Linked DNA regions of Homo sapiens. The protein of the gene in region 2 interacts with the protein of the main gene of each other region in a biochemical or structural test. Each region holds a gene or a part of one and is shown on either strand. Other genes may lie near its edges.

What was found.
Region 1: the proteins of AKAP11 (region 2) and PRKAR2B interact in far-western blotting, tested with the Homo sapiens proteins (one study listed by BioGRID).
Region 3: the proteins of AKAP11 (region 2) and GSK3B form a complex in vitro, tested with the Homo sapiens proteins (one study listed by BioGRID).
Region 4: the proteins of AKAP11 (region 2) and PRKAR2A form a complex in vitro, tested with the Homo sapiens proteins (2 studies listed by BioGRID, with this or other methods).

What each region holds. Positions count from the first base shown.
Region 1 is NC_000007.14:107,038,822-107,047,805, forward strand, and holds the start of PRKAR2B (cAMP-dependent protein kinase type II-beta regulatory subunit), read left to right. Parts: upstream 1-5,883; 5' UTR 5,884-6,086; coding exon 6,087-6,393; intron 6,394-8,984. UniProt on the Homo sapiens protein: Regulatory subunit of the cAMP-dependent protein kinases involved in cAMP signaling in cells. Type II regulatory chains mediate membrane association by binding to anchoring proteins, including the MAP2 kinase.
Region 2 is NC_000013.11:42,316,743-42,324,639, reverse strand, and holds the end of AKAP11 (A-kinase anchor protein 11), read right to left. Parts: intron 7,113-7,897; coding exon 6,952-7,112; intron 5,553-6,951; coding exon 5,412-5,552; 3' UTR 1,379-5,411; downstream 1-1,378. UniProt on the Homo sapiens protein: Binds to type II regulatory subunits of protein kinase A and anchors/targets them.
Region 3 is NC_000003.12:119,820,420-119,826,333, reverse strand, and holds the end of GSK3B (glycogen synthase kinase-3 beta), read left to right. Parts: 3' UTR 1-5,013; downstream 5,014-5,914. UniProt on the Homo sapiens protein: Constitutively active protein kinase that acts as a negative regulator in the hormonal control of glucose homeostasis, Wnt signaling and regulation of transcription factors and microtubules, by phosphorylating and inactivating glycogen synthase (GYS1 or GYS2), EIF2B, CTNNB1/beta-catenin, APC, AXIN1, DPYSL2/CRMP2, JUN, NFATC1/NFATC, MAPT/TAU and MACF1.
Region 4 is NC_000003.12:48,767,158-48,775,444, reverse strand, and holds part of PRKAR2A (cAMP-dependent protein kinase type II-alpha regulatory subunit), read left to right. Parts: intron 1-2,336; coding exon 2,337-2,490; intron 2,491-8,287. UniProt on the Homo sapiens protein: Regulatory subunit of the cAMP-dependent protein kinases involved in cAMP signaling in cells. Type II regulatory chains mediate membrane association by binding to anchoring proteins, including the MAP2 kinase.

The DNA.
Region 1 (8,984 bases), on a different chromosome or scaffold from region 2:
TAACTTTGCAAGATTCCTTAAAGGAGAATAATGAGTATACATTTCGTCCTGATTTAGCCAAAGAAAAACTTATGCGTTGATATTAAGCAAAAAAAGTTGCTTCAAGCAGCTTCCTATTCAGCATGAACATAAGCTCTTCCTTAGTGAATCTAGCATAGTGGATCTCAAAGTGTGGTCCCGAGACCTACAGCCTAAGTATCACCTGAGTATTTGATAGACGTGCAAATTCTCGGGCCCCACCTCAGACTTACTGAATCTGAAACTCTGGGGGTGGGGCCCAGCAACTGTGTTTTAAGTAGCCCTCCAGGTGATTCAGATGCTTGGTAAAATTTGAGAATCACTAGTTTTCTAGCGGCAACCCTTTTGCGAAGTTGCACATAGAGATTAAACATTTTACTTACTTTTAGTCCAAATGTCTGTAAGATTTTCAGGCTATGAGGTGACCATCTTTTAGCAGGCATGTTGTGAAGTATCTGTACCACCTCTATAACATTGGGACTGTTCCCAATATTCGGGACTTTCCTCTGCTGAAGAGGCAGGCCTTATCATGTATTTATACTACCTGACCACTTCCTTATCTGGCACCCTACTGGCCACACTTACTAGACCAGTCAAGGCCAGGCAATCTACTAGATGGTCAAGACCAACTAACCTGATTCTCTCTTGAGAATATGAATCAGAGACACCAAAACTGTAGTCAGTGTTGAAATGCTAAAGGTACGTAAAACTGAGGCTGATGATCACAGTCAGCCTTGGGCAAGAACAGGCCCTGTATCCTCTCAATTGCCTCCTTTTTTTTCCTTGAGTGGGTATATATTTCTTGCACTCCAGAGACTTGATCAGGAAACACCTTAACTATTGACAGGAAATGCTGCATGATTGATTGGTCATAGTTATTATTCTGTACTGCTTGCCCAAGCCATTGACTTTGTTTTTTTGGCAGTTACATATAAGCAAGTTGATGGGTCTGTTTAATTTCCTGGTGTGAAAACAAATTTGATAGCACTCTTTTCATTTCAATGCTGAGCTCTCAGAGTTCATTTGCCATTGCTTCCAGTCTGATTCTCTGAGAAACTGGTGCAAATTGCTTTGCAAATCCACAACCAAAGAATCAGTATCAGTGATGCTCTTTTAAGGAATATGAGATACATAGTTCCCATAAGCCACTGTTCAAAAGGCTCAAAATGAAATATTCTGAAAATGAAAGCAAAAGAAATCATAAAATATTACCAAAAAGGTTATGTGGTAGTGAATAAAAGCCAGAATATGATTTGAGAAGTGAACATTTGTTCTGAGAACAATGCTAATGTAATGGGAATATCAGGACCAAGCTTTACTTTTTCAGGTCATGGTTATTGATTTAAGAACTGATGCAAATGAAAATTACCAAAGAGCTGTTTGCAAAGATGTTTCAAGTCCAATAAGTCTTGTTTTAGTATTATACTATTGTAAATCTCTCAGGATGAAAAAGACTATATAGGTCATCTAATCCAATTACGCATTTCATGCTTGAAATCATTGCTATATTCTTAAAGAAATGAGAACCACACAACCTTGGCATTGTGGTTGATGACAGAGAGCTATCTACCATGCTTCATATAATAAATCTACAAGAAGAAATAAATGAATTTGGAAACACAAAATGGCATTAACAAGATATGGCTCTTAATAATGTTTGGAAAAGTAGTGCTTTTTTTAATTTTGTCATTCCTAGGGAAAAGGTATTAGACATTGTGGCAGAGATTGATAATTATCTCCAGACTTTTTTTTTTTTTTTTTTTTTTTGAGACAAGGTCTTACTCTATCACCCAGGCCGGAGTACAGTGGCACAACCACAGCTCACTGCAGCCTTGACCTCCCTGGGCTCAGGCGCTTATCCCACCTCAGCCTCCCGAACAGTTACGACCACATGTATACCACCAAGCCTGGCCAATTTTTGTATTTTTTTATAGAGATGGAGTCTCCCTATGTTGCCCAGGCTGGTCTCGAACCCCTGGGCTCAAGCGATCCACCCTCTTTGGCCCTCCAAAGTGTTGGGATTACAGGAGTGAGCCACTGTGCCCGTCCAGACTTGGTTCTTTTTAATTCCCAAATGTTTACTTGGCACGTGACTGCTCAAAATAAATATTACATTTCCAAACTTTCCTAATAGCCATTGGTTTCAGTTGCTATTGCTGTGTAACAGATTATCTCAAAACCTAGAGGCCTACAACAACCTTTTTATTATGCTCACAGATTCTGTGGAACAAGGCTTCAGCCAGGGCATCCAGTACAGGGCTGGCTTCTTCTATCATGCTGACTTGACTTTTACAATGTTCTATTGGTCAAAGAAATCACAAGCACATTCAGATTCAAGGGGAGGGGAAATAAGACTTCAATTCATTAGTGAGTAGTGGCCACGCCACACTGTAGGAGATATTGTTGTAGCCGTCTTTGGAAAATGCAATTTGCCACACCAAAGGTGTGGCCATGTTGACTAAGTTCTAGCCAAGAGGATAGAAGAGGAATTGTGTTTAACTTCCTAGAAGGAAGGGAGGGGAGGGGAGCTTCCCTTCTCTTTTTCACTTTCCTCTTAGCTAAAATATGACTGGCCCTGGAGCAGCCATTTTGGACCACAGACAGGATCATAGAGCAATGAGCTGGAGGGAGCCTGGGTCCCTGATGATCATGGAGTACCACACTGTGTCCGGAATTGGTGGGTTCTTGGTCTCACTGACTTCAAGAATGAAGCCGCAGACCCTCGCGGTGAGTGTTACGGTTCTTAAAAGTGGCGTGTCCAGAGTTTGTTCCTTCTGATGTTCGGATGTGTTCGGAGTTTCTTCCTTCTGGTGGGTTCGTGGTCTCACTGGCTCAGGAGTGAAGCTGCGGACCTTCGCGGTGAGTGTTACAGCTCTTAAGGCGGCGCATCTGGAGTTCCTCCCGGTGGGCTCGTGGTCTCGCTGGCTTCAGGAGTGAAGCTGCAGACCTTCATGGTGAGTGTTACAGCTCATAAAGGCAGTGTGGACGCAAAGAGTGAGCAGTAGCAAGATTTATTGCAAAGAGCAAAAGAACAAAGCTTCCACACTGTGGAAGGGGACCCGAGCTGGTTGCCACCACTGGCTCAGGCAGCCTCCTTTTATTCTCTTATCTGGCCCCACACACATCCTGCTGATTGGTAGAGCCCAGTGGTCTGTTTTGACAGGGCACTGATTGGTGTGTTTACAATCCCTGAGCTAGACACAAAGGTTCTCCATGTCCCACCAGATTAGCTAGATACAGAGGGTCCACACAAAGGATCTCCACGTCCCCACCAGAATAGCTAGATACAGAGTGGCGATTAGTGCATTCACAAACCCTGAGCTAGACACAGGGTGCTGATTGGTGTGTTTACAAACCTTGAGCTAGATACATAGTGCCGATTGGTGTATTTACAATCCCTTAGCTAGACACAAAGGTTCTCCACGTCCCCACCAGACTCAGGAGCCCAGCTGGCTTCACCCAGTGGATCCCGCACTGGGGCTGCAGGTGGAGCTGCCTGCCAGTCCCGCGCTGTGCGCCTGCGCTCCTCAGCCCTTGGGTGGTCGATGGGACTGGGCGCCGTGAAGCAGGGGGCGGCGGTCGTCGGGGAGGCTCGGGCCGCACAGGAGCCCACGGAGTGGGGGGGAGGCTCAGGCATGGCGGGCTGCAGGTCCCGAGCCCTGCCCCGCGGGAAGGCAGCTAAGGCCTGCGAGAAATTGAGCACAGCAGCTGCTAGCCCAGGTGCTAAGCCCCTGACTGCCCGGGGCCGGTGGGTCCGGCCGGCCGCTCCGAGTGCGGGGTCTGCCGAGCCCACGCCCACCCGGAACTCGCGCTGGCCCACAAGCACCACGCGCAGCCCCAGTTCCCGTCCGCGCCTCTCCCTCCACACCTCCCCGCAAGCTGAGGGAGCTGGCTCAGGCCTTGGCCAGCCCAGAAAGGGGCTCCCACAGTGCAGCGGCAGGCTGAAGGGCTCCTCAAGCGCTGCCAAAGTGGGAGCCCAGGTAGAGGAGGCGCCAAGAGCGAGTGCGGGCTGTGAGGACTGCCAGCACGCTATCACCTCTCAATACCAACTCTGAACTGCCCACATTTAGATTCCAGAGAAATAAATCTTAAGCTATTGTATTTCGCATTTTCTGCCACATGTGAGCAGTGTTTATCATAATTAATACAAATATTATCACAAATTTAGACAGGTGATACACATGCATCTTAGATTACCAGATCCGTAAAAATAATAATGCTTACACGGTAGAGAGTAGTACTAACATTGTGCTCCAACCGGTGACATGTGAGGCTCACCATATTTTATAAAAGTTTAATTCTTTTTTTTTTTTTTTGAGACGAAGTCTCACTCTTGTCCCCCAGCCTGGAGTGCAACGGCACTGCACGATCTCGGTTGACTGCAACCTCCGCCTCCTGGATTCAAGCGATTCTTCTGCCTAAGCCTCCTGAGTAGCTGGGATTACAGGTGCCTGCCACCATGCCCGCTAATTTTTGTATTTTTAGTAGAGATGGGGTTTCACCATGTTGGCCAGGCTGGTCTTGAACTCCTGACCTCAGGTGATCCGCCCACCTCGGCCTCTCAAAGTGTTGGGATTACAGGCATGAGTGAGCCACTGCGCCCGGCCAAAAGTTTAATTCTTAAAATGCTCGACACAATTAGAAGCACTTAACTACTGTATATTTAAAGCAACGTAACATTATTACTATAAAGTTGTTAAGAAATGAAAATAGAGAAATACATTGGCTCATGGAGTCAATACAGGATGCATCATTAACAAAGGGTTAACATCAAGATCCATTTTTACAAGAGGGACTAGTTCGTTACATCTCTGATTTCTAGACTTGGAGTTTCCCCAGTCATGTGTTTACTCTTCCGTGGGTGGGAAGATAAATCAGAATAACCAAGTGAGCTTGCTCTTGAAATATTTTATTTACAATGATATGATAATTGTAGAAAATGAAGTATGCGTACTTAAATAGAATTTAATTGACAAAAGACAATTTTCTCTACTTCAAAATTGTAAACATTTGCAAAGTAAGCCTCATTTCAAAGTCAAAGCCTTCTACTTTAAAAGCACACATTAGTAATTCTATTTTTCTTTATACTGAAGTATTTCAATTTTTGGACATACAAGTCAAAAATCATTCAAAGCATAAAGGAAAGTTTCAAAATAATAAGCGCCTCATCCTGCACTATCCTATTTAAAAGAGATCAACTAACTTTGATAGGTGCCTCTCAATAAATGGTGCCTTTGTCTCAATAAATAGTAAATGCGTGGAGTGCACAACGGAATAGCATCAGTAAGACGAAACATAATAAACAGGATGGATCGGGAAAGGCTGGATAAAATGTGGGGAAGAAAAAGAAAGACGTCACAAAGATGGGGTAGCATTTCTTTGTCCAAAAGAGAACCAGTACCACCATAAGACTTTAAACAAAGGACATTAGCAACACTTATCATGCAACTAGATTCTAGAAGGAAAATAAAATGCCACTACTAAGGTGGAGGCTGAAGTTTCAAGACAAATCTCCTGGCACCACCTCTGCGGGGGTTCACCATGGCGAATGACGCCTGGGAAGCGGGGCGAGTGGCCAGCCCGCTCCTGGACGCGCGGACAGGTGGACACGAAGGCGGCCTCGCTGGGCCTCCCTCCGCCTCTCCCGGCCCGGGCGCGCAGCCCTGCGGTGGTCTGACAGGCGGGTGCGCGGCGCCAGCCAGCGGAGGTTGCCATGGTTTCCGGGGGTCACGTGGGCGCGCTCTCCTGCGCCCCCTCCCGCGCACCGCGGCGGGGCGGGGGCGGGGCGCCCGGGCGGGGGAGAGGCGCGGCCGCGGCTGGAGCGGGAGGAGCAGGAGATGCTGCCAGCCCTCCCGGGGCCGCGCTCGCTCAGCCGCCGCCACCACACGGAGCAGACGCGCGCCGGGAGCCGCGGGCCGGGCCAGCCGGGCCGCCGGGGCCCAGTGCGCCGCGCTCGCAGCCGGTAGCGCGCCAGCGCCGTAGGCGCTCGCTCGGCAGCCGCGGGGCCCTAGGCCGTGCCGGGGAGGGGGCGAGGGCGGCGCCCAGGCGCCTGCCGCCCCGGAGGCAGGATGAGCATCGAGATCCCGGCGGGACTGACGGAGCTGCTGCAGGGCTTCACGGTGGAGGTGCTGAGGCACCAGCCCGCGGACCTGCTGGAGTTCGCGCTGCAGCACTTCACCCGCCTGCAGCAGGAGAACGAGCGCAAAGGCACCGCGCGCTTCGGCCATGAGGGCAGGACCTGGGGGGACCTGGGCGCCGCTGCCGGGGGCGGCACCCCCAGCAAGGGGGTCAACTTCGCCGAGGAGCCCATGCAGTCCGACTCCGAGGACGGGGAGGAGGAGGAGGCGGCGCCCGCGGACGCAGGGGCGTTCAATGGTGAGGACCAGACCCCCCACTTCGCGCCCCCGGATCCCCTCGCTGCCCCCCACCGCTCCCCGCTGTGCTCTCGGATCTTGCCGCTTTGCGCACCCACCTCTCCCCGCATTCTCCACCTTTCCCTACCTTCCCATCTCGCCCACCCCCTCAGCATCCATTTCTGTCTCTCCCACTCGCCCACCTTCCTACTCCGCTCTCTGTCATACCCTCTTCCCTTCCTCTAGAGGTGGGAGAGCTGGGATGTTACGCTTCCCTCTTACCCTTTGCCCCCTCTGCCTGGGCCGGTTGGGGTGGGCATCTGCTAGAAAGACAACTTTCGCTGTGGTTGGAGGTATTTCGCTTAGAGGATACCATTGTGCATAAAGAAACTGGCCCGCTTGGCGTCTTCTTTCAGCCCTTGTATTTATTAATGGAATGTCGAAAGAGAAAAGGAGAACCGTGTTTAATATGATTGGCTTTACTGTTGTTAGGACGGTAGATTCGCTAAAAGAAGCATGAAATTGGACTCACTGGGGCAGAACAAAATTTATGGCCAGTAGCTCTGACATTCTTGGAAATAAGAGTTATCTATTATTTTCCAATTTACCAATACCGTGTTGTGTTATTTTTGGACACGTAACAAAGGATTCTATTTAGTCTGAAACCCACGGGGGTCTTTGGAACGAGGAAATGGGTTAATGGTTTGCTTTTTATATAAAAGACATATTGAATGATTTGGTGCTTTATTTTTTTAAAAGTGTATGAGAAAAACACTGTAGGAAGTTCTGAAAGCTTGTTGGTTGTCTTTAGAATGAAAAGCCAGTGAGTAATTGTAAGGATTGTGCCAGACAGTAGAGCTAGAAAGAATGAATGGGAAAGAAAAAGGAATTTTCTCAAATAGCTGCTCCTGGCAAGTCCCACCCCTTCTGCTTACAACCCTCTTTCCCTAACACACCCAGACACACACCCTCATTTACAGCCCCTTGTATTACACAACATGCCCAAATCTCATTTTTATGGCAACCCAAGCTAAAATACCATGGAGTGCAGTGTGCAAGTGTTTTCTCTTTGTGGTGTAAGGCAAACATGCATGCAGCATTGCACCAGCTTTTATTTATTTACACTGCTTGTGGTTTGTGTGTCCGCAGTGTATTTCATAAAATGAAAACATTTAAAAGTGTCATTTCATTTCCTTGTGTATGCTCCTAGGAAGATGTTTCTTTTCTTTGCAGGATTACATGTTGAAATGGATTATAAAATTAGTGTATTTTTAGTTTCTCCAAAAGAATCCCAGAAACCCTGGAAATTAGTGCGCTGTGAAGATAAAAGTGAAGCTTGTTACTTACAATTTTAATTTTGGACTTCTAAATGTTTCCCCAAGAGGATAAACATAGTCTTAATAATTCTTTTTGCACAAGAATCGAATCAAAAGCTTTTCCTACCAGAAACGAGAAAGAGAAAAGAATGCATGTTTTAAATAGGTAAGAAGCAGCAGCCAGTAACGGATGACAGAAAGGGCAGAGATATCTAATACTTCTTTTATGCTCCTGACATGTTCGTGCACACACACAAAGGGGAAAAAAAGGACTCTTTTCCCAGGTTGGAGAAAACTAGGAACTAAGGGGCTTGGTAAAGACCATATATATATATATATTCTGTATGATATGTTGTTAATATAATCAAAATATTTTGTTTGTATAATGCATTTGTTGAAGTACTTTGCATTGATGATTGCATTTTCTCCTTATAACAATATATTGCGCACAGAAAAGATTCCATTTTCATTTTGTAGTGAAGAAATAAGCCGTTAACTTCTGAACAGCAGGGGTCATTTTATATGGCTTTATATTCTCCAAGGCACCTTTGCTGTAAAAATTGCTCAGTGTGACTTAAACAAGTTAAACTTGTTAAACAATTGCACTATTTACTCCCTAGCCTCACCCCCAAGGACTTTAAAACTTTTTGACTGCAACCAAATACAATTTGATCATTATCCAGGAGGCACATACATCTGTATAACAGAAACTTTGGCAATAGTACAGGTACTTCCTTCTGTCAGATGCAGTGCTTTTTGATATTTCCTATTTGAATCAGTTATTTCTCCCTATTTTAAATTGTATTGAGACCTCCAGTTGAAAAACATTTAATTATAGGCTACAAAGTGATTGGCAAGGTTTCTTGTAAAGGGCCGGTTAGTAAGTGTTTTAGACTTAGGGCAACATGTGGTCTTGATCACTTCTTCTTCAGTTTTTTTTTTTAAACACATACACCTTCTGAGGGTTGCGGTTGTACAAAATTAGCTGCAGATCAAGGCCATAGCTTGCCGACCCCTGGTTAGAAGAAAAAAAAAAAAGTCAAAATAGTACCATTGGGGGAAAAAACAGGAGTGATCCTAAAAAGTATGAGCCTATCAGTTTGACATCTATGTCCAGAAATGTGTCTCATTAGAAAAGAACCCCAGATACTGGGCAATTCTGGCATAGTAAAGAATAAGGATTGGAAAACAAGTCTTAATTTACTATGACACAGCACAAGACCTGCTGGGTCAGTAATTCTGAAATTTTCATAGATATCTCAAGGAAGTTTGATTCAGAAATGACCATTACCCTGTA
Region 2 (7,897 bases):
GGGCAGAATTCAGTACACAGAAGTCTGGTTTTAATCCCGTGCTTTAACAAATTCATTTAGGTGTCTGTTTAAAAGGGGGTAGGGGTGCAGAGGGATGAGTTAAACTCAAAATTGGGGCTTCAACCCCCTCTTGAAACTGTTTTTCACTCTCTCCAGTCTAAAGTATTACCCTCCTTGACCAAAAGTTAAAATGAGAGGTGACTATAAAATTACAAAGGATAGAGAAAAAAGTGCAAAATATACTCTTTATTGTTCTTGCTGTAAACTCAATGACGCAAAAACACTGATTTTTACTCTTTGTATTATAGGAACAACAGTACATTCATCCTTAGATAAATGACCTCTCCATCTCACACTTTAAAAAATCTGAGGTAATTCAAGCCCTGTCCCTCACCTTCCTCTCTGTCCTAGCTAAGATACAAATCACATATGATCCCTCTGTGTAAAACTGTCAAATGTCCTTTGCCACATTTCCCATTCTTTTTGAGCCATACTTCCTTTTTGGCATTATAATCTATGGAATCTTGCTTACTTCTTCTCAGCACTTTTGGTTTGCTTAGTAACTGGGGTGCACTTACAACCAAACCTTCTCATTGTTTGCTATTATTTCCTAGCATTTTAAAACATGAAAAAAATTTTAAAACAATTTCCTAATTTCTGGGCTTAAATTACATTAAGATAGGGCACAGTAAAACTATTTGTATGATATTACAGTTATGTACATATAATTATGTATTTGTCCAAACCTACAAATGCACAAGAGTGAACTCTAATGTCAACTATGGACTGTGGATGATAATGGTGTGTGTGTCAACGCAGGACCACAGATTGTAACAAATGTCCCACTCTGTTGTGGGGTGTTGACACCGAAGGAGGCTGGGCAAAGAGGGTATACGGGAGCTCTGTATTTTCTGCTCAATTTTGCTGTGCATCTAAATAAAAGTGCTCTAAAAATGGTCTATTTAAAAGGAAAAAAATTCTTAAGACAAAGTCAGATCCATTAGTAATTAAAAAAAAAAAAACCCAGCAGCTTTTAAGTTATCTTGTGTACATGGTTTAACAGAGGTATGGTCTTATTATGGAAAGAGTGTTCAAACCAGGCCAGAAGAATTTCATAGCCATGTTCATATTCAAGGCAACCATAATATTCTACTTTGCAAAAACAGGTTGGGCAACCAGCCTTTTAAGTCACTATGTCTGCATTTGGGGTATCTATAAGTAGGTAGAATCTAGTGTCCAATTGGAAATATTTCTAACTTCTCTTGTTCTCAAAACCATGATCTAGCACTTCAGTCCTCTTATGTGGTCTTCTGTCATAGCAGTCCCACTCAGTACAGAGCAGTTAATGAGATATTATAGAATGAAAACCAAGACCAGGTATTTCTTAAATTTATTGAAGAACTCTTAGCTGGGAGAAGAAAGATCACAGGCTTAAACAATTGTAAGATAAAAGAACAATTAATTGCAAATAATTACAAAAGTAATTTCTGAAATTTTTTGAGCCACTGCTGAAACAAAACTTTAGTGCATCTCAAAGTTCGTATTTTGTTAAGTGAACATATTAAATTACTGAAAAGCAAAAAAGAGTTACTGTTACACAGTACAAGATCTTAATATAGTAACTGAGCACAGCCAAATAAACAGCTATAATTATTCCAAGCTGCTTTTGCTATGTATCTGGTATATTAAACAAGAAAGTGGATTACTTTTAACACTGCACAAGTAACCAAAGGTAGCAAATCCAGCAATATTAAAACCGGATATTAAATAGTATTCAAACATTACAACAAAAACAAAATAAGAACTTCTAGAACTAGAACTCTACCCTATGAAAGGAATGTACACAGATGGTTAAAAAAAAACCAATAAATAAATAAAGTGACAAGAGTGACTAATTCTGTATCCACATCTTCAGAGCAGGAATACAGTAAATGAGTAAATGCTTAGAGGAGTCTTGCTGAAAATGAGAAAAAATGCATCTCACTTTAGTATAATTTTTCTAAATTCTCACTGAAGCTCTAATTCTCTTGTGCTGGTGACAGGTGGACAGGGTTTTTAAATGCAAAGTATTCTCCCTACACCCTGAGTATGGATGCATCAGTTGTTTAAAATTCTGTGGAAAGTTTCCTTAGAAAAACATAAAATTTAAAGTGATATACTGATGGGAAATTGAATATATTAATTGTGGAAGAATATCAGCTAACTAATTAACTAAGTAGACATTTAAATCTGGACTCTGTTGAAGAATCAAGGTTAAACTCTGCATTATGTGCACTAATGTCAGCCATCTAATATCAAAGTCAGATAAGTAAACTATCTTTCACTTTATACATAGTGCATTTAGTAAATAAATTCTCTTACCAGCAACATAAAGCCCTTGTTGGAGCAAAATTAAAGTATTAAGAATTGAATTAACTTACAACAAATATCTGAAGGGTAAGTGGAACATTTTTCAAAGTATAAAGATGTTATCACATATATTCACCATGAATCCTCTTAAAGGTTTTATAACACCATTAAATTATATCAAATATCCAACAGATATTGTCATTTTCTTCTGTGATTTATAAAGGAAACATTCCTTTTGTACAAATCAGAAGTATCTTAAAAATCAACCTTAACACCAAAATATACATGTAATTTTAACTTGGTTTAGGAAAACATGAAAGAACTGTCACATTTTGGTGTGAACAAGGTTCTGAAAACCCCCTATCAGAGGTCTCATTCACTTTTTTCCACATATCACTTGAAGGTTTTGAAACTGGTAAAAACAGAATTCAGCTCGATGTACATCAAAACTTTAACAGTTCTGAAAAAGACGTATTTCGTAAGGGCCAAAATGTACAGCACAGCAATATTACAATGTTACAGTATAAATATGTCAAGCCAATTTGTAATAAAATAAGACAGTTGTCTTCAAAAGAGCTGTTTGACTATAGAGCAACCAAATAGATCTAGAACATCTTTGGAAAAACCACAAAGTGCCTTTACAGAAAGTTAAGTTTAGACTACACTTAATTAAAAGATAATACTCTAAACTCAAAATTATTTTCTCTATATGAGGAATTTTGACACTTGTTTTCACACCTGCCAATATTCAATATTTTTAACTCACACTTCTTTTCATACATCTGCCAATATTTAATATTTTATTCTATGCCCCTGCACTGAATTGATGTAAGTGTGAAGTTCCACTATTATTATTACCACACATGCTAATACCTAATAACTGGTCTGTCATTATGTAGTGGTTAAATAAGCAAATGCTGAACTCAGCACAGCTCTAGCAAAATGCAAAGGAAATAAGAAAAGCCTCACCTCAGAATGATTACACCATAAACAGAAATAAACATTTTCAAACACAAAGTTTCACAAAATAATATATCATCACTTTAAAAGAAATTCAGAACTCTATTTTGCTGTTGATCAAACTTGTGCATACACTCAAGTTACTAAACACAATTTGATAGTTAGATACTTGTAAAAATGCATTCTAAACTTAATAATCAATTAATTCATAATTAACAAGAGCAAACATTCCTAGTCCTAACATTTAAAAAAACCCAGTCCAGTGCTGCCACATCTCAAGTTCTGAAAAGCTAAAGGCAGGAACAATTCTGGTTATACAATTCCTGCATTTCTCCACCTTAAAAAATACTTGAAGAAACTTTAGGAAACTTTATATTAAGGCTTGCTGTATTTCTGTATCTTAAATTGAGAAAAATCAAAACCTACGATGTAACCTCGAATTATTTAAATAGCTTTTGGCATTTTTCTTGAAAAGCAAATTTGAATCTTTCACTATAAAACATTTCTATACCACAATTACTAATTCACATTAATGTGTAAGTGCCCTCATTTCCTATTCCCTGGCAGGCGCTATGTCTTCTTTCTACGTTTTGTGCAGCTTTCAGAACAGTCAGTGCTCAGAAAAAATGAAAACGTAATGGAGCAAAATCAAAGTCCCCAAAAAAAGTGATTTATCCTAGATTACAAAATCCAGTAGTGGAAGAACCAACATTTACACACCCAAATACACACACACCCACACATACACAGGACACAGCGAGAGATGAGAGAGAGTGGGGGGTGGGGGAGGTGAGAGACAGTGGGAGGAGGGGGGAGGGGGAAGAGAGTGGGAGGAGGGGAGAGAGAGTTGCAGGGAGGGAAGAGAGAGACAAAAGCAAGACACAACCTTTGTCCTCTATTCATGTCAACTTGCAGTTTCTGGACACAAACTAGTAGGAAATGTAGAGCCCAGAAAGATCGTGTCAGAGAACTTGACGAGACAGTGTAGATATAGTTTATCTGGGTGGGGCGGGGTGGGGGGAAATCCCAATTTTTCTAAAACAAACAAACAAACAAACAAAAAAAACACCACATTCTTGGTAGAGGTTTTTTCAAAAATCCAACAATAAAAACTACTGGGCTTCTCTAAATGCATTTCCATATTAACATTAATTTTTAAAATTTCAACATGTTTTACAATTTAAGTTTTCACTTGTAAGATAAGTTGGGAACCCAAAATTGTCAAAAAAAATTTTAATTATTGTCAATAAAAATTCTTACTGCACAATCTTTATAGGCGTTTTATTTTAAAGCACCTTTTTAAATTTTAACAGTGGGTTTCTAAAAAGAAAACAGTAAAATAAAAGAGGGAACAAACTGGCAAGGTTAAAGTACTCCCTTACACACACACACACACACACACACACACACACACACACACACACCTTTCATGCCAGAATGACTGGCAGCATTGGCAAATAATGTCAATGAAAGGATGGGGGAAACTATCACTTATAGTGTTTATAGAAACCTAAAATACTAATGTTTCTGCTAAGAAATTAAATAGTTTGGGGAAATCAAAAAGCTACCAATAGCTGATCTATGAAATATGAAAATGAAACTGATTTTTAAAAACAGGAAAGGCCAAAAATCTACTAGAAATTTTTAAAAATCAGCCTCAATTTTATTTTCTGATGTCAGACTAGTTATTAATTAGATACCATTTGTTTGCAAAGGAGCAAAATTATAACTCTATCACTGGAACCTATCCTCAGCCACTTCAGTGCAGTTTCTAGCAGCACTATTTGGATACAAAAAGAATGTGGTCAGACAATGCCCCTGAAAACCCCCTGGTTAGACCTTCCTTCAAATACATGTTCTTAGGGTCTTGACACACTACACATGTGTATAGAAGAATAAATGAAGGTAGTATTTTGACAGATTACAAAAGTATGAACTATATACACCGAGTGATAACACAAAGCGCTCAGAAAGCTATATTTACTTGCCTCCCAACTGACTTACGATGTTAATATTCACTATTCAAATTTTATCCTAAACATCTTTATTGGCTTGTTCCCCTCCCCAAACAAATACTAAAATATACTGGTTTGGGGTTTGCTCTATGCATTTTCCAAGAGCCAATCAAACAGCGACTTGCATCTCTCCTCACTGGAAGCTTTTTCCATCACTTCATAGTATTGAAGCACAGCCTGCAGGAGGTCTCCCACTTTCCATCCTTTCTCTTGTAATTGTTTTGAAAGCTAAGAAAGAAAGATGTGTCAAACATTAACCAAAAACAATTTTATAACAAAGCTTTTATTTTTATTTTCAATATTAGCTGAAACTTAAGAATCCTGCTGTTTACAATTAAATACCGTTTCCTAGTTATAACAAGGTCTTCCCCTCTAAACCGCTACCCCTTTACCCAAATTAAACATTTTCCCTTCTTCCCCTTTATAAACACATCTCCTCCAGAGAATGACACTTTGGGATCGCTGGAGACAGAGCTCCACAAACCTCACCAAGCAAATAGTCTGCATGGACATGCAGAGGCTGAGTTTCTACAGGAAATTCTTCACCTAACTAAATACAACTGCCACACCCTCAATTAGGACATAAAATAATAAAGACAACGTCAAACTCAATAAAAGGATGTGGATTTTCCTTCCACAACATATAGTGTGGCATTTTTCTGGAATACACACTCTAGCCTCAATGGAAACATGGCTTTCTAAGTTAAAGAATGTTAATGTTTCAACAACAAAACAACAAATAAATAAATAAATAAATACAGGTTTAAATAAATCCTGTTGTCACCACTCACGACATGCTTTTGTTCATTTCTTTTTCTACTAAGTTCTGTAAAAGCTCTTAAGTTTTGAAAGATCTGTAAGTTAAATTCTGAAAAACTACTTTAATTTTGTGTAACATATATATGCTTAACCTTTTTAAAAACAGCTTTATTGAGATAAAACTCACATAACATACAATTCACCCAAAGTGTCCTAGTCAATGGTTTTTAGTATGTTCTCCAAGTTGAATGCAACCAACACCACAATTCGAATATTTCTACCACCCCAAAAGGAAAGTTCTGATAAAGAAAATTATGGAACAAAAACCTTAAGACTGTAAACTGAAAATCTTGACTAATAAGGTACTTGGCACATAGTAAGCATCTTGTTTAAACTTTTATCGGCTTTTAATTATGACAGCTGCTCATACAAATGAAACTGGATTATCAGAGAAACAGATATATTAATCATTAGGTACAATTACAAATCAATTAAATACAGAGAATAATTCAATTTTTTCATAGGAACACACACAATGCTTATTAATAGCATCTACCTTTGAGAGCTTAGTGTTATGCCAGGCATTAGACCAAGCATTTTTTTTAACATTATATTTAATCCTCATAAACCCCTGTAAGGTAGATTCTATATTCATTTGCATAGTGCAGTTAGGGGCAATGAGACAGACTGGTGAACCTGCCTCTGGTTATACTGCTAGAAAGTGGCAGAGCTGATGTCTGAACCCAAACTGTTGGACACTACAGCCTAAGAATTTAACCATCACCAGGCATCTTGTTAGACCAATCACATGACAAGAACATCATATACTGTTAAATGTATCCTCACACTCTGTAAGGTAGGTACTTACTAGCATAAACTCCTTATTTGCAGAGTCATGAAAATAAAGTTCTGCAACTTCAGCCTCAGAGGCAATGAGCCACTGAAGAATAATCCTTAGCTGGGGGTCTACCGTGCATGGCTCCATGTCAATATTCGTAATTAGCAGTGTCTTTCCATCTTGCCCCAAACCTAATATTTAAATGTAAACAATATAAAGTAAAACTCATCAATTTAACTCTCAATACTCTGGTTGTCAAGTAGATACAAATATTTTCTGGTTCTTAGGATTCTAATGAATGGTGAAAAAAATATCCATCTTTTTCTAACCACACCATAACCTCAACTAAAACTTCTAAAGGGCAAAATAATGTAAAACAAAGGAATAACTTTGATCATTTATTGATTGCAAAAATATAAAACATCATTTTAACATACTGAATTCAAGTTCTATAAATGCCATAATTTGATATAAATTATGACCAGTGGGTTAGAGAGAAAATAAAACTATAAAGCTATCATTACAATAAAAATAAAAATGAGGCTGGGCATGGTGGCTCAGGCCTGTAATCCCAGCACTCTGGGAGGCCGACGTGGGCAGATCGCTTGAGGCCAAGAGTTCGAGACCAGCCTGCCCAACATGGTGAAACCCCAGCGCTATTAAAAATACAAAATCCGGCCAGGCGTGGTGGCACATGCCTGTAGTCCCAGCTACTCAGGAGGCTGTGGCACAAGAATCGCTGGAACCCAGGAGGCAGAGGTTGCAGTGATCCGAGATTGCACCACCCAGCCTGGGCAACAGAGCAAGACTTTGTCCCAAAAAACAAACAAAACCCCACAAAAAAACAGAAATCTCAAATAAAGAAGAGCAGCAACATCTGTGCAGCACATATTCCATCCTAAGTATTGTTCTAAGCTCTTTATATGTACAAACTCCTTTAATCCTCACAACCACTCTATGAGGTAGAAACTATTAT
Region 3 (5,914 bases), on a different chromosome or scaffold from region 2:
GTTGGGAGCTTAGCAGGTATAACTCAACGGGGACTTAAATGTCACTTGTAAAATTAATCCATATCTTCGGGTATTTATAGACTTGCCTTTGGCATGTTGGTGGCAGGTGTGGCAGACAAAGAAATGTGTATCATTCGTAACCCAGGGAGGTCAATAAAGTTTGGAACTCTACAGGGAAGATTCTTAGTAGATTTGTTAAGGTTTTGTTTTGCTCTCAGTTAGTGCTAGTGATGTAGAGGCTTGTACAGGAGGCTGCCAGAGGGGAAGCAGCAAGCAAGACTCAGGCACACATGCTCTACAGGTGGCTCTTTGTTTGCCTGACCAAAGTTCTTTGCAAATCTTAGCACAGTTTCAAACTAGTGACCTGGGAGGAGATGGAAGGGGTGTTGAGCAGGCTGAGCTAGCTGCTGAGGTCAAAGGCTGATGAGCCCAGAGGAAGGGGACAGGTCAGGGATACATCTCACCACTGTGAATAAGTTTGTCCAGATTTTTTTCTAAAGTTACTTCCCTTGGAAAGATACACTTGAGAGGACATTGTAGTTAAATAATGTGAACTGTAACAGTCATCTACTGGTTTATTTTTCATATTTTTTAATTGAAAATTGAGCTTGCAGAAATAGCCACATTCTACACATAGTTCTAATTTTAAATCCAAATCTAGAATCTGTATTTAATTTGTTTTTTAACCTCATGCTTTTTACATTTATTTATTGATGCATGTCAGATGGTAGAAATATTAAAAACTACACATCAGAATGATACAGTCACTTATACCTGCTGACTTTATAGGAAAGCTGATGATATAAATGTGTGTATATATGTTATATATACATATATTCAATACTGCCTTTTTTTTTGTCTACAGTATCAAAATTGACTGGTTGAAGCATGAGAAGAATGTTTCCCCCACACCCAGTTAAGAGTTTTTGTGTCTGTTTTCTTTGTGTATCAGTGAACGATGTTAAGAATCAGTCTCTCTTTTTGAAGAAAAAGCAATATTCCTTGGAAAGCAAGGAGAATTGAAGGACTATGTTTGCCGTGAGGAAATAGATTTTCATGACTAGTTTGTTTTATACTTTTAAGGTTGGCATCTATGTGGGCCTTATATACTCTAAAATGAACTTTAGTCACCTTGGTGCTTATGGGCCATTACTTGACCTATGAATCTTTAAGGCACAATCAGTTGTACTTTACATTTAAAGATCACTTGAGTGATGGCCGCCTTTCCCTCCTACCCGCTCCTTCCCCACATGCCTTCCAAGGTTAGCTGGTAACTGTAGGGCTGCAGAGCTGAGCCCATGGTTGTGTGTAACTTGCCCTCACCCTCCTCATTGCCACCTTAGGTCACTTTATGGGTCTCGTCCTCCAGAGGGTTCGGAAGTGGAGTCTGTTGGCAGCCCTCCTGCAGGCCCTAGCACCCTGTCCTGCTCCTTAACTGTGTGTGTGACTCTCCAAGAGAGTTGTCCTGCCTGCTGAAGTGAACCAGTACCCAGAAAGACAACTGTGAGCCATCTTGGTTTTCACTCGCTGTTTAGCTGAGGTCTTGGGCCACAAAAGGGGTTTCACAAACCTCTGGATATATCAGAGTTTATGAGAAAGGAAACATGCTCAGTCAAACCAAATCAAACAAATTGAATTTTATGTTTTATAAAGTGCTTCTGAAAGCTAAGATTTGAAAGAAGTCTGAAATCAAAGTATTTGGCAGCATAACTCCTTAAAGGTAGTGGCGTTGATAGACCATTTTCAGACAGAATTTATAAAGAATCTGAAAAGGCAGGTCTGTGATAGAGAAATGGACCTGCATTCAGATCCAACTGCCCAGCAAGCGTTTGGATGCAGACACTGCTCTGGACGTGGTATACTCCCCAGAGTCCATAAAAATCAGTGCTTATTTTAGGAAACAGGTTGCCCCCCACAACTGGGGTAAAAGAAGAGAGAAAAGTCACGCTTTTCTCTCATTTCATTGTGTGTGCATGTGTGCGTGTGTGTGTGTGTGTGTGTGTGCTGAGATGTGTGATTTTTCTTTCTCAAGGATCATGGTGGGATCACAGAACTCTTTTATACAAGTGAGATCCAGGTCTCTGAATATCTTTTTGTATATAATAATAATAAAAAGCTCCTCACCAAATTCAAGCTTGTACATTATATTTTCTTTCTGTGTTTTTAAATTTAAGTTTTATTGTTTTGTATGTAAATATGTGGACCCAGGAACTGTTATTAATGAGCAAAAAGTTACTGTTCAGGGCAGTGATTCTGTTTAATAATCAGACAAAATGTAGACGAGCTTTTTAAAGCCATATAGTTTTAACTCTGTACAGTAGGTACCGGCCTGTATTATTGTAACAATAACTCTAGCAATGTATAGTGTATCTATATAGTTTGGAGTGCCTTCGCTTCCATGTGTTTTTTTTTTTAATTTGTTCTTTTTTAAATTTTAATTGGTTTCCTTTATCCATGTCTCCCTGTCCACCCCCTTTCCCTTTGAAATAATAACTCACTCATAACAGTATCTTTGCCCCTTCCACAGTTAAGTTTCAGTGATACCATACTCAGGAGTGGGAAGAGGAAATCATATTCGTAATTTCATTTCGTTGAAGCCCTGCCTTTGTTTTGGTTCTGAATGTCTTTCCTCCTCGGTAGCAGTGAGACCGGTTTCATTTCATACTTAGTCCATTCAGGGACTTAGTGTAGCACCAGGGAGCCCTAGAGCTGGAGGATATCGAATAGATTAAATTTTGCTCGTCTCTTCCACAAGCCCTAACCATGGGTCTTAAAAACAGCAGATTCTGGGAGCCTTCCATGCTCTCTCTCTCTCCTCTTTTATCTACTTCCCTCCCAAATGAGAGAGTGACAGAGAATTGTTTTTTTATAAATCGAAGTTTCTTAATAGTATCAGGTTTTGATACGTCAGTGGTCTAAAATGCTATAGTGCAATTACTAGCAGTTACTGCACGGAGTGCCACCGTGCCAATAGAGGACTGTTGTTTTAACAAGGGAACTCTTAGCCCATTTCCTCCCTCCCGCCATCTCTACCCTTGCTCAATGAAATATCATTTTAATTTCTTTTAAAAAAAATCAGTTTAATTCTTACTGTGTGCCCAACACGAAGGCCTTTTTTGAAAGAAAAATAGAATGTTTTGCCTCAAAGTAGTCCATATAAAATGTCTTGAATAGAAGAAAAAACTACCAAACCAAAGGTTACTATTTTTGAAACATCGTGTGTTCATTCCAGCAAGGCAGAAGACTGCACCTTCTTTCCAGTGACATGCTGTGTCATTTTTTTTAAGTCCTCTTAATTTTTAGACACATTTTTGGTTTATGTTTTAACAATGTATGCCTAACCAGTCATCTTGTCTGCACCAATGCAAAGGTTTCTGAGAGGAGTATTCTCTATCCCTGTGGATATGAAGACACTGGCATTTCATCTATTTTTCCCTTTCCTTTTTAAAGGATTTAACTTTGGAATCTTCCAAAGGAAGTTTGGCCAATGCCAGATCCCCAGGAATTTGGGGGGTTTTCTTTCTTTTCAACTGAAATTGTATCTGATTCCTACTGTTCATGTTAGTGATCATCTAATCACAGAGCCAAACACTTTTCTCCCCTGTGTGGAAAAGTAGGTATGCTTTACAATAAAATCTGTCTTTTCTGGTAGAAACCTGAGCCACTGAAAATAAAAGAGACAACTAGAAGCACAGTAGAGTCCCAGACTGAGATCTACCTTTGAGAGGCTTTGAAAGTAATCCCTGGGGTTTGGATTATTTTCACAAGGGTTATGCCGTTTTATTCAAGTTTGTTGCTCCGTTTTGCACCTCTGCAATAAAAGCAAAATGACAACCAGTACATAAGGGGTTAGCTTGACAAAGTAGACTTCCTTGTGTTAATTTTTAAGTTTTTTTTTCCTTAACTATATCTGTCTACAGGCAGATACAGATAGTTGTATGAAAATCTGCTTGCCTGTAAAATTTGCATTTATAAATGTGTTGCCGATGGATCACTTGGGCCTGTACACATACCAATTAGCGTGACCACTTCCATCTTAAAAACAAACCTAAAAAACAAAATTTATTATATATATATATATATATATATAAAGGACTGTGGGTTGTATACAAACTATTGCAAACACTTGTGCAAATCTGTCTTGATATAAAGGAAAAGCAAAATCTGTATAACATTATTACTACTTGAATGCCTCTGTGACTGATTTTTTTTTCATTTTAAATATAAACTTTTTTGTGAAAAGTATGCTCAATGTTTTTTTTCCCTTTCCCCATTCCCTTGTAAATACATTTTGTTCTATGTGACTTGGTTTGGAAATAGTTAACTGGTACTGTAATTTGCATTAAATAAAAAGTAGGTTAGCCTGGAAATGAAATTAAAATTCACAAGTGTGTGGTCTTTATTTCAGTACCCAACCCTCTTCCTTCACCCTACTATTTTGCCGCTGCAATATGTAGTCACATCACCATTTCCATTCCTCTAATTAGGGAAACATTAATCTTTGTTATACAGAACAAGATATCAATACCACTTCTTGTTCTTTCCAATGATTTTATTCCATTGTGTAGCCCCAAGAGGTGCAGCTTCCACCTTGGAAACCTTTGGATTTGATGTAGAGGAAGCTTTGCAGACACTGCTTAGAAAAGAAAGAAAACAACTCTGAAAGGGACAGTTTTTAAATGTGTATAAGCTGCTGTCTTTGATTACTGTGTTCATGATTTGGTGTGGCTGTATTTTCTTTTAACTTTCATCCTATTAGTAATGGTCTTTGGGGGTCTCTGTAAAATATATGGACACCACGAACAGTGGGGCTGTACCTCCCAGGTAACCAACACATGTTGTGTTTGAGTCTGCTCATTTCCAATACTGGATGATGTATGTAAACATGTTATGTCTCTTAGTGCAAAAAGAAACATCATTTTTTTAGGGCTGGCTCACTCTGTCAGGCCTAATCTAAAGGCTAGATATAAGGTCATGTGACTGCTGCTTCAATAAAAACAAATTTATATTCGATAAAGTGTGGTCCTCTTATTTATTTACTGTGGTGGTGGGGTTGGCTAATTCCAACATTGGTAAAACAGTTAAACACATTTAACCAGTAGGGGCGGCAGGGGAGGATTGGATTAGCAGAAACAGAAGTTACTTGTGCGATGCGCCTCCTGCTGGCACTGAAGTGCATTTGTTTGGGATTTGCTGCTGTCTTGCATAGGTTCTGGGATTGAGTTAAATATTGTGTTAGTGTCCTGCAAGACCTTTTAATTTAGAATCCTGAAAGACTGCCTTTTTAGTTTCTTTTCTTTTTTTTTTTTTTTTTTGAGACGGAGTCTCGCTCTATTGCCCAGGCTGGAGTGCAGTGGCGCGATCTCCGCTCACTGCAAGCTCCGCCTCCCGGGTTCACGCCATCTCCTGCCTCAGCCTCCCGAGTAGATGGGACTACAGGCGCCCGCCACCACGCCCGGCTAATTTTTTGTATTTTTAGTAGAGACGGGGTTTCACCGTGTTAGCCAGAATGGTCTCGATCTCCTGACCTCGTGATCCGCCCACCTCAGCCTCCCAAAGTGCTGGGATTACAGGCGTGAGCCTCCGCGCCCGGCCCCTGCCTTTTTAGTTTCTAAGTCTTTCCAAAAAGTACTGACCAAACAGTCCTTCGGGATCATATTTCAGGAGAGCAGTGATGGTAGATGTCATTTCGTTTTTTTTTGTTTTGTTTTGAGACAGAGTCTTTCTCTGTCGCCTAGGCTGGAGTGCAGTGGCGCAACCTCGACTCACTGCAACCTCCGCCTCTCGGGTTCAAGTGATTCTCCTGCCTCGGCCTCCTTAGTAGCTGAGACTACACCACGCCCGGATAATTTTTGCATTTTTAGTAGAGACAGGGTTTCACTTTTTTGGCCAGGCTGGTCTTGAACTCCTGACC
Region 4 (8,287 bases), on a different chromosome or scaffold from region 2:
TTGTTTTGAGACAGAGCCTCGTTCTGTCGCCCAGGCTGGAGTGCAATGACATGATCTCGGCTCACTGCAACCTCTGCCTCCAGGTTTCAAGTGATTCTCCTGCCTCAGCCTCCCGAGTAGCTGGAATTACAGGCACCCGCTACCCGCCCAGCTAATTTTTGTATTTTTAGTAGAGACGGGGTTTCACCAGATTGGCCAGGCTAGTCTCGAACTCCTGACCTCAGGTGATCCACCCACCTTGGCCTCCCAAAGCGCTGGGATTATAGGCTTGAGCCACCGTGCCCGACCTGCTTTGTTTTAATCTTTGTTTTAACAGACTATGAAAGAAAACCCATGCATTCATATCAATACCTACAGCAAAGCATTTGACAAAATTCAACATCTTTTTGTGATGAAAATGCTCAGTAAACTAGCAACAAAAATAACTTTCCCTAACTAGACTAAAGGCATTTATTAAAAACCTACAGCTAACATCATATTTAATGGTGAAAAATTGTTTTTTCTTACAACTCAGAATAAGGCAAGGATGTTTGCTTTCACCACTTCCACTTAATATTGTACTGGAGGTTATAGTCAATGCAATAAGGCAAAGAAAGGAAGAGAGGGAGGGAGGGAGGCAAGGAAAAAAGGAAGAAAGAAAGAAAGTGTGGCATAGTACACAATGAAATACCATTTGACCATAAAAAAGAAAGAAGTCATGTCATTTGTAGCCACATGGAGGTTGCTATATTAAGGTAAATAAGATAGGCACAGGAAGACAAATACCACATGTTCTTGCTCACATGTGAATGCTAAAGAACATTGATATCGTAGACATAGAGAATAGAATGATATATACCAGAAACTGAGAAGGGTGGTGGGTGGATGAAGAAAAGTTGGCTAATGGGTACAAACACACAGTTAGATAGAAGAAATAAATTTTAATGTCTTTTTTTTTTCCTTTTTGTGGAGAGAAGTCTCCATACGTTGCCCAGGATTGTCTCAAACTCCTGGGCTCAAGCAACCCTCCCAGTTTAGCTTCCTAAAGTGCTGAGATTACAGGTGTGAGCCACTGCACCTGGCAAGTTCTAATGTTTTATAGCATGATAAGGTGACTATACTTGGGTGACAATATTTAGCATATTTCAAAGTAACTATTAATAGAAGAGAGGACATGAAATGATACTGACACATAGAAAGGACATATATCCAAGGTGATGGATACCCCAGTTACCCTGACTTAATCATTACCCATTCTATGCATGCAACAAACACTCACATGTACGCCATAAATTATGTAAAATATTATATATTAATAAAAGAAAAAAAATTAGGCCGGGCATGGTGGCTCATGCCTTTAATCCCAGTACTTTGGGAGGCTGAGACAGGAGGATTGCTTGAGCCCAGGAGTTCCAGACCAGCTTGGGCAACATAGTGAGACCCCATCTCTACAAAAATAAAATATTAGCCAGGTGTGGTGGCACACGTCTGTGGTCACAGCTACTCGGGGCTGAGGTGAGAGGATTGCTAGGGGGCTGAGGTGAGAGGATTGCTTGGGGCCAGGAGGTGGAGGCTGCAATGAGCCATGATTGTGCCTCTGCACTCCAGCCTGGGTGACAGAGCAAGACCCTGTCTCAAAAAAATATATATGTCAAAAAATGTATATATGTGTATATATATATTTATGTGTATGTATATATGTGTGTGTGTGTATATATATATATGTTTAAGTTAAAGATGGGGGGAAAAAAAGGAAGGGGCATATAGATTGGAAAGGAAGTATTAAAACTTTGTTTCAGGTGACATGATCCTCTATGTAGAAAATTCTAGCCGGGTGTGGTGGCTCACACCTGTAATCCCAGCACTTTAGGAGGCTGAGGCGGGCGGATCACGAAGCCAGGAGATCGAGACCATCCTGCTAACATGGTGAAACCCTGTCTAAAAATACAAAAAAATTATCTGGGCCTGGTGGCGCGTGCCTGTAGTCCCAGCTACTCGGGAGGCTGAGGCAGGAGAATGGCGTGAGCCCAGGAGGTGGAGCTTGCAGTGAGCTGAGATACCGCCCCTGCACTCCAGCCTGGGTGACAGAGCGAGACTCCGTCTCAAAAAAAAAAAAAAAAAAAAAAGAAAAGAAAATTCCAAGAATGCCACAAAAAGGCTACTAGAATTAATAAGTGAGTTTAGCAAGGTTATAGGACACAGTACAAAGTCAAAATACAAAAATATGTTTTTTTTATATACTAGCAAAGTTCCATTGGAAATCTCTTAAAACAACATTTTCTATTATATGTACCTGCCAGTTCTTAACATTTATTATCAGAAGTAACTAATTAAATTATTCTTTGTCATTCTTCTAGGGGAACTTATGACATTTTAGTAACAAAAGATAATCAAACCCGCTCTGTTGGTCAATATGACAACCGTGGCAGTTTTGGAGAACTAGCTCTGATGTACAACACCCCGAGAGCTGCTACCATTGTTGCTACCTCAGAAGGCTCCCTTTGGGGACTGGTGAGTGAGAGAAATCGTTCCCCTTGCAAGGCACAGTATTAATTCCCTTTCTGTGTCTCTGTCCTTGGGCTGTTGATTTACACTATATCTTACAGCCATCCTGGCTAACACGGTGAAACCCCATCTCTACTAAAAAATACAAAAAAAATAGCCAGGTGTGGTGGTGGGCATGTGTAGTCCCAGCTAGTTGGGAGGCTGAGACAGGAGAATGGCGTGAACTCGGGAGGTGGAGCTTGCAGTGAGCCGAGATCGCGCCACTGTACTCCAGCCTGGGCGACACAGCGAGACTCCGTCTCAAAAAAAAAAGCACTTTATTGTGACATCCTGATGTTAAATTAAGAGTGCTCCTGAAAGAGATACAGTGACTTAAGGATAGGTCACACACTTGGGGACTCAATGATTGAAAAACTCAAGAATAGATTTGTATAGGGGAATAATAAATAATGGGGGCCAGGCACGGTGACTCACACCTGTAATCCCAGCACTTGGGGAGGCCAAGGCGGGAAGATCACTTGAGGTCAGGAGTTCGAGACCAGCCTGAGCAACATGGTAAAACCGTGTCTCTACTAAAAATATGAAAATTGGCCAGTCATGGTGATGGGCGCCTGTAGTCCCAGGAGGCGGAGGTTGCAGTGAGCCAAGATCACGCCACTGCACTCTAGCCTGGGCGACTGAGCAAGACTCCATCTCAAAAAATACAAAATCAAATAATAAGCCTTGGTGCTAACTACTGGTTCAGACCAAGATGGAATAGCCCTATTCCATGCTAGTGTTCTCACTTAAAAACTTAAACACACACACAAACAACTATGGACATAATAGAGCAAACATAGGAAGACTCTGAAAGGTGGAAAGAAGAAGGCAGACTATCTAGGGATATTGGGGCTTGAGGAAAGACATGACAGTGAGTTCCCAGGTTCCCATATATCCCAGATGGGGTGCTGGAAAGCCTGAAATCCAGATCTTCTAACAGGTATATTCAACAAAAGCAAAACTCCATCTCAAAAACAAAACAAAACAAAAGAACGAACAGCTAAACAGAAAATCAGCTAGTGTCAGCTAGGATATAGAAGAACTTAACACCATTAATTAACAAAAGCTATCTGAAATTTATAGAACACTGCACACAGCAACAACAGAATGAACATTTTTTTCAAGCCCATGGAACATTCACCCAAATAGGCCATATCCTGGAATATAAAATAAAACTTAAAAAATGTAAAAGATTTGAAATCAGGCCAACCACAGTGGCTCAAGCCTGTTATCCCAGCACTTTGGGAGGTTGAGGTGGGAGGATTGAGTCCAGGAATTTGAGACCTACCTGGGCAGCATAGTGAGACCACATCTCTATTTAAAATTTTAAGAAATAATGAAAATTTAAAGAAAAAATGAAATCAGAATGTGTTCTCTAACTACAATTGAAAGAAAGAAACTAAAAATCAATAACAGATCTCCAGACACTTAGAAATTAAATAACATTGTTTTTGGTGTGAGCAGGGGCTAACTGCAGCCTTGACCTCCTGAGCTCAAGCAATCCTCCCACCTCAGCCTCCCAAGTAGCTGGGACTACAGGTGTGCACCACCACACCTGTCTTTTTGTTGTTGTTGTTGTTGAGACAGAGTCTCACTATGTTGCTCAGGCTGGTCTTGAACTTCTGGGCTCAAGCAGTCCTCCTGCCTTGGCCTCCCAAAGTGCTGGAATTACAGGCATGAGCCACTGTGCCCAGCCAAATAACACATTCTTTCTTTTTTTTCTTTTTTGAGATGATCTTGGCTCACTGCAACCTCTGCCTCCTGGGTTCAAGCGATTCTCCTACCTCGGCCTCCTGAGTAGCTGGGATTACAGACGTGTGCACATGTGCCACCACGCCCAGCCAATTTTTGTATTTTTAGTAGAAATGGAGTTTCACCATGTTGGCCAGGCTGGTCTCGAACTCCTGACCTCAGGTGATCTGCCCACCTCGGCCTCCCAAAGTGCTGGGATTACAGGCAAGAGCCACCGCACCCGGCCAAATAACCCATTCTTGGATAATCTCTAAGACCAAGTCTCAATGAAAATTGAAAACTGTATATTGAGCTGTAAAACCACCTGCTTTGTGGCTGGGGTATGAGGATTAAATACATGGGCATAAGAGAAGTGACTCCCTTAGTGCCTGGTACAAGGTGGGTGTTCACAGAATGATGGCACAAGCTCCCCATGGCCATGGTGCTACTCACCACCCTTCTTTTCCTGAGACTTCCTTTCCTAAGACTCCTATTCTTTCTATTTCCTTGCCTTTGGCAGTCATTTCCTCTTCTCCTTGCTTTCTTAGGTCAGTGACCTATCAAGATATCCTTTTGGCCTCTACTTTTCTCCTGTTAATTGACTTGCTTTGCAAGCCCAGACTCTTCCAAAGCTTCAATACCACCTCTAGGAAAGTAACTCACAGAAGGTCCTCTCCAGCCTGACTTCTTCTTTGGCCTTGGAAATGCCTTCTGAGGTTGAAGTAGGGAGGATCTGGTGTCGTCACTGAGTTTTTCAAGTTGGATCCTACATTCCTGCTTTTATAATGGGCAGCTGCCATCACGGCCCCTATACGTAGTCTCTTTTGCTTTCTCTTGCTTTATTGAAAGTCAATAGAAGGTTTCCTGGGAAATTCCTGCAGTCACAGGAGAGAGTAGCACTCCTTTTCTCTTTTGAACTTCAGGGGTGTTTGCTTGCCTCTGACCACTTGCTGCCTGTGGGAATTTCCTCTTCACTGCTCGATTGGATGCTCATCAAAGGCTATGTTGATGTCTGGTGCTTTTTTTATATTCTCCACAGCCATGGGAACTGGCCTTGCACCACATGAAAAGAGAGTTTTGGGAAGTGTTAAAGCATGCGTAAAAAGGGGTAGAACCAGCTGGGTGTGGTGACTCATGATGTAATCCCAGTACTTTGGGAGGCCACGGTGGGCAAATCACATGAGCCTAGGAATTCAAGACCAGCATGGGCAACGTGGTGAAACCCTGTCTCTATGAAAAATAAGAAATTAGCTGATGTGGCGGCACATGCCTGTAGTCCCAGCTACTTGGGACGCTGAGTTGGGAGGATCACCTGGGCCTAAGAGGTCAAGGCTGCAGTGAGCTGTGATCATGCCACTACACTCCAGCCTGCTGAGTGACAGAGTGAGACTCTGTCTCAAAAAAAAAAAGTCGCTTGCCGGGCGTAGTGGCTCGTGCCTGTAATCCCAGCACTTCGGAGGCCAAGGTGGGCAGATCACCTGAGGTCAGGAGTTGGAGACCAGCCTGACAAACATGGAGAAACCCTGTCTCTACTAAAAAATACAAAATTAGCTGGGCATGGTGGCGCATGCCTATAATCCTAGCTACTCTGGAAGCCAAGGCAGGAGAATCACTTGAACCTGGGAGACGGAGGTTGCGGTGAGGCAAGATTGCGCCATTGCACTCCAACCTGGTCAACAAGAACGAAACTCCATCTCAAAAAAAAAAAAAGTCGCTGTAAGAGATATTTGTTGTGGTCGGGCACAGTGGCTCACGCCTGTAATACCAGCACTTTGGGAGGCCAAGGCGGGCGGATCATGAGGTCAGGAGATTGAGACCATCCTGGCTAACACGGTGAAACCCCGTCTCTACTAAAAATACAAAAAATTAGCCGGGCGCGGTGGCAGGCGCCTGTAGCCCCAGCTACTCAGGAGGCTGAAGCAGGAGAATGGCGTGAACCAGGGAGGCGGAGCTTGCAGTGAGCCGAGATTGTGCCACTGCACTCCAGCCTGGGTGGCAGAGCGAGACTCTGTCTCAAAAAAGAAAAAAAAAAAGAAAGATATTTGTTGTTTTCTCTTTAGTTAGAAATCTGTTGTTGTTGTTGTTGTTTTTGAGATGGACTCTTGCTCTGTCATCCAGGCTGGAGTCCAGTGGCATTATCTCGGCTCACTGCAACCTCCGCCTCCAGGATTCAAGCAATTCTCCTGCCTCAGCCTCCTGCATAGCTGGGATTATAGGCATGTGCCAACAGTACTGGCTAATTTTTTATATTTTTGGTAGAGATGGGAATTCACCATGTTGGCTAGGCTGGTTTCGAACTCCTGACCTCAAGTGATCCACCCACCTCAGCCTCCCAAAGTGCTGGGATTACAGGCGTGAGCCATGCGCCCAGCCGAAATATTGTTTGCTATTGCAATTGTACTAATCTTTGTTACACTGTAGGTGGATTTGTAAAATATTGGGAGTTAACTTTGCTGCCCTCTGTGTATTTTTTAATATTTATTTATTTATTTATTTTGAGACGGAGTCTCTGTTGCCCAGGCTGGAGTATAGTGGTGTGATCTCGGCTCACTGCATCCTCTGCCTCCAGGGTTCAAGTAATTCTCATGCCTCAGCCTCCCAAGTAGCTGGGACTATAGGTGTACACCACCATGCCCAGCTAATTTTTGTATTTGTAGTAGACACGAGATTTCACCATGTTGGCCAGGCTGGTCTCGAACTCCTGACCTCAAGTGATCCACCCACTTTGGCCTCCCAAAATGCTGGGATTATAGGTGTGAGCCACTGTGCCAGGCCTTTTATTTTATCTATCTATGTATCTATGTATGTGTGTGTGTGTGTCTGTCTGTCTGTCTCTCTGTCTGTCTATATCTATCTATCTATCTATCTATCTATCTATCTATCTATCTATCTATCTTTTGAGACGGTCTCACTCTGTTGGCCAGGCTGGAGTGCAGTGGTGCTCTCACACCTCACTGCAACTTCGCCTCCCAGGGCTCAAGCAATCCTCCCACCTCTGCCTCCCCAGTAACTGGGACCACAAGTGCACGCCACCACGCCTGGCTAATTTTTGTATTTTTTGTACAGATGGGTTTCGCCATGTTGCCCAGGCTGTTCTCAAACTTCTGGGCTCAAACAATCCACCCACCTCCCCACCTCAGCCTCCCAAAGTGCTGGGAATACAGTCGTGAGCCACTGTTCCCAGCCTGTATGGGTTTTTTTTAAATAAATAAATAAAATATTGGGGTTTTCTGTTTTTGTGGGGTTTTTTTGTTTGTTTTTTTTTTTGAGATGGAGTCTCGCTCTGTCTCCCAGGCTAGAGTGCAGTGGTGTGATCTTGGCTCACTGCAACCTCCACCTCCCAGGTTCAAGCGATTCTCCTGTCTCAGCCTCCCTAGTAGCTGGGACTGCAGGCGCGTGCCGCCATGCCCAGCTAATTTTTTGTATTTTTAGTAGAGACGGGGTTTCATTGTGTTAGCCAGGATGGTCTCGATCTCCTGACCTTGTGATCCACCCGCCTCAGCCTCCCAAAGTGCTGGGATTATAGGTGTGAGCCACTGCGTCCAGCCTGTTTTTGTGTTTTAAATAGAGTTGAGGTCTCATTGTGTTGCCCAGGCTGGTCTTGAATTCCTAGCCTCAAGCGATCCTCCTGCCTTGGCCTCCCAAAGTGCAGGGATTACAGGCATGAACCACCACACACAGCCTAAAATATTGTTTTGTTTTTGTTTTTTTCGAGGCAGGGTCTCGCTCTGTTACCCAGGCTGGAGTGCAGTGGCATGATCTCGGCTCACTGCAACCTCTGCCTCCCAGGTTCAAGTGATTCTCCTGTCTCAGCGTCCCAAGAAGCTGGGATTACAGGCGCCCACCACCATGCCTGGCTAATTTTTGTATTTTTAGTAGAGATGTGGTTTCACCATATTGGCCAGGCTGGTCTTGAACTCCTGACCTCAAGCGATCCGTCTGCCTCGGCCTCCCAAAGTTCTGGGATTACAGGCGTGAGCCACTGCGCCCAGCCCATTATTATACTTTCTGACAAAATGTATATATGTATAGT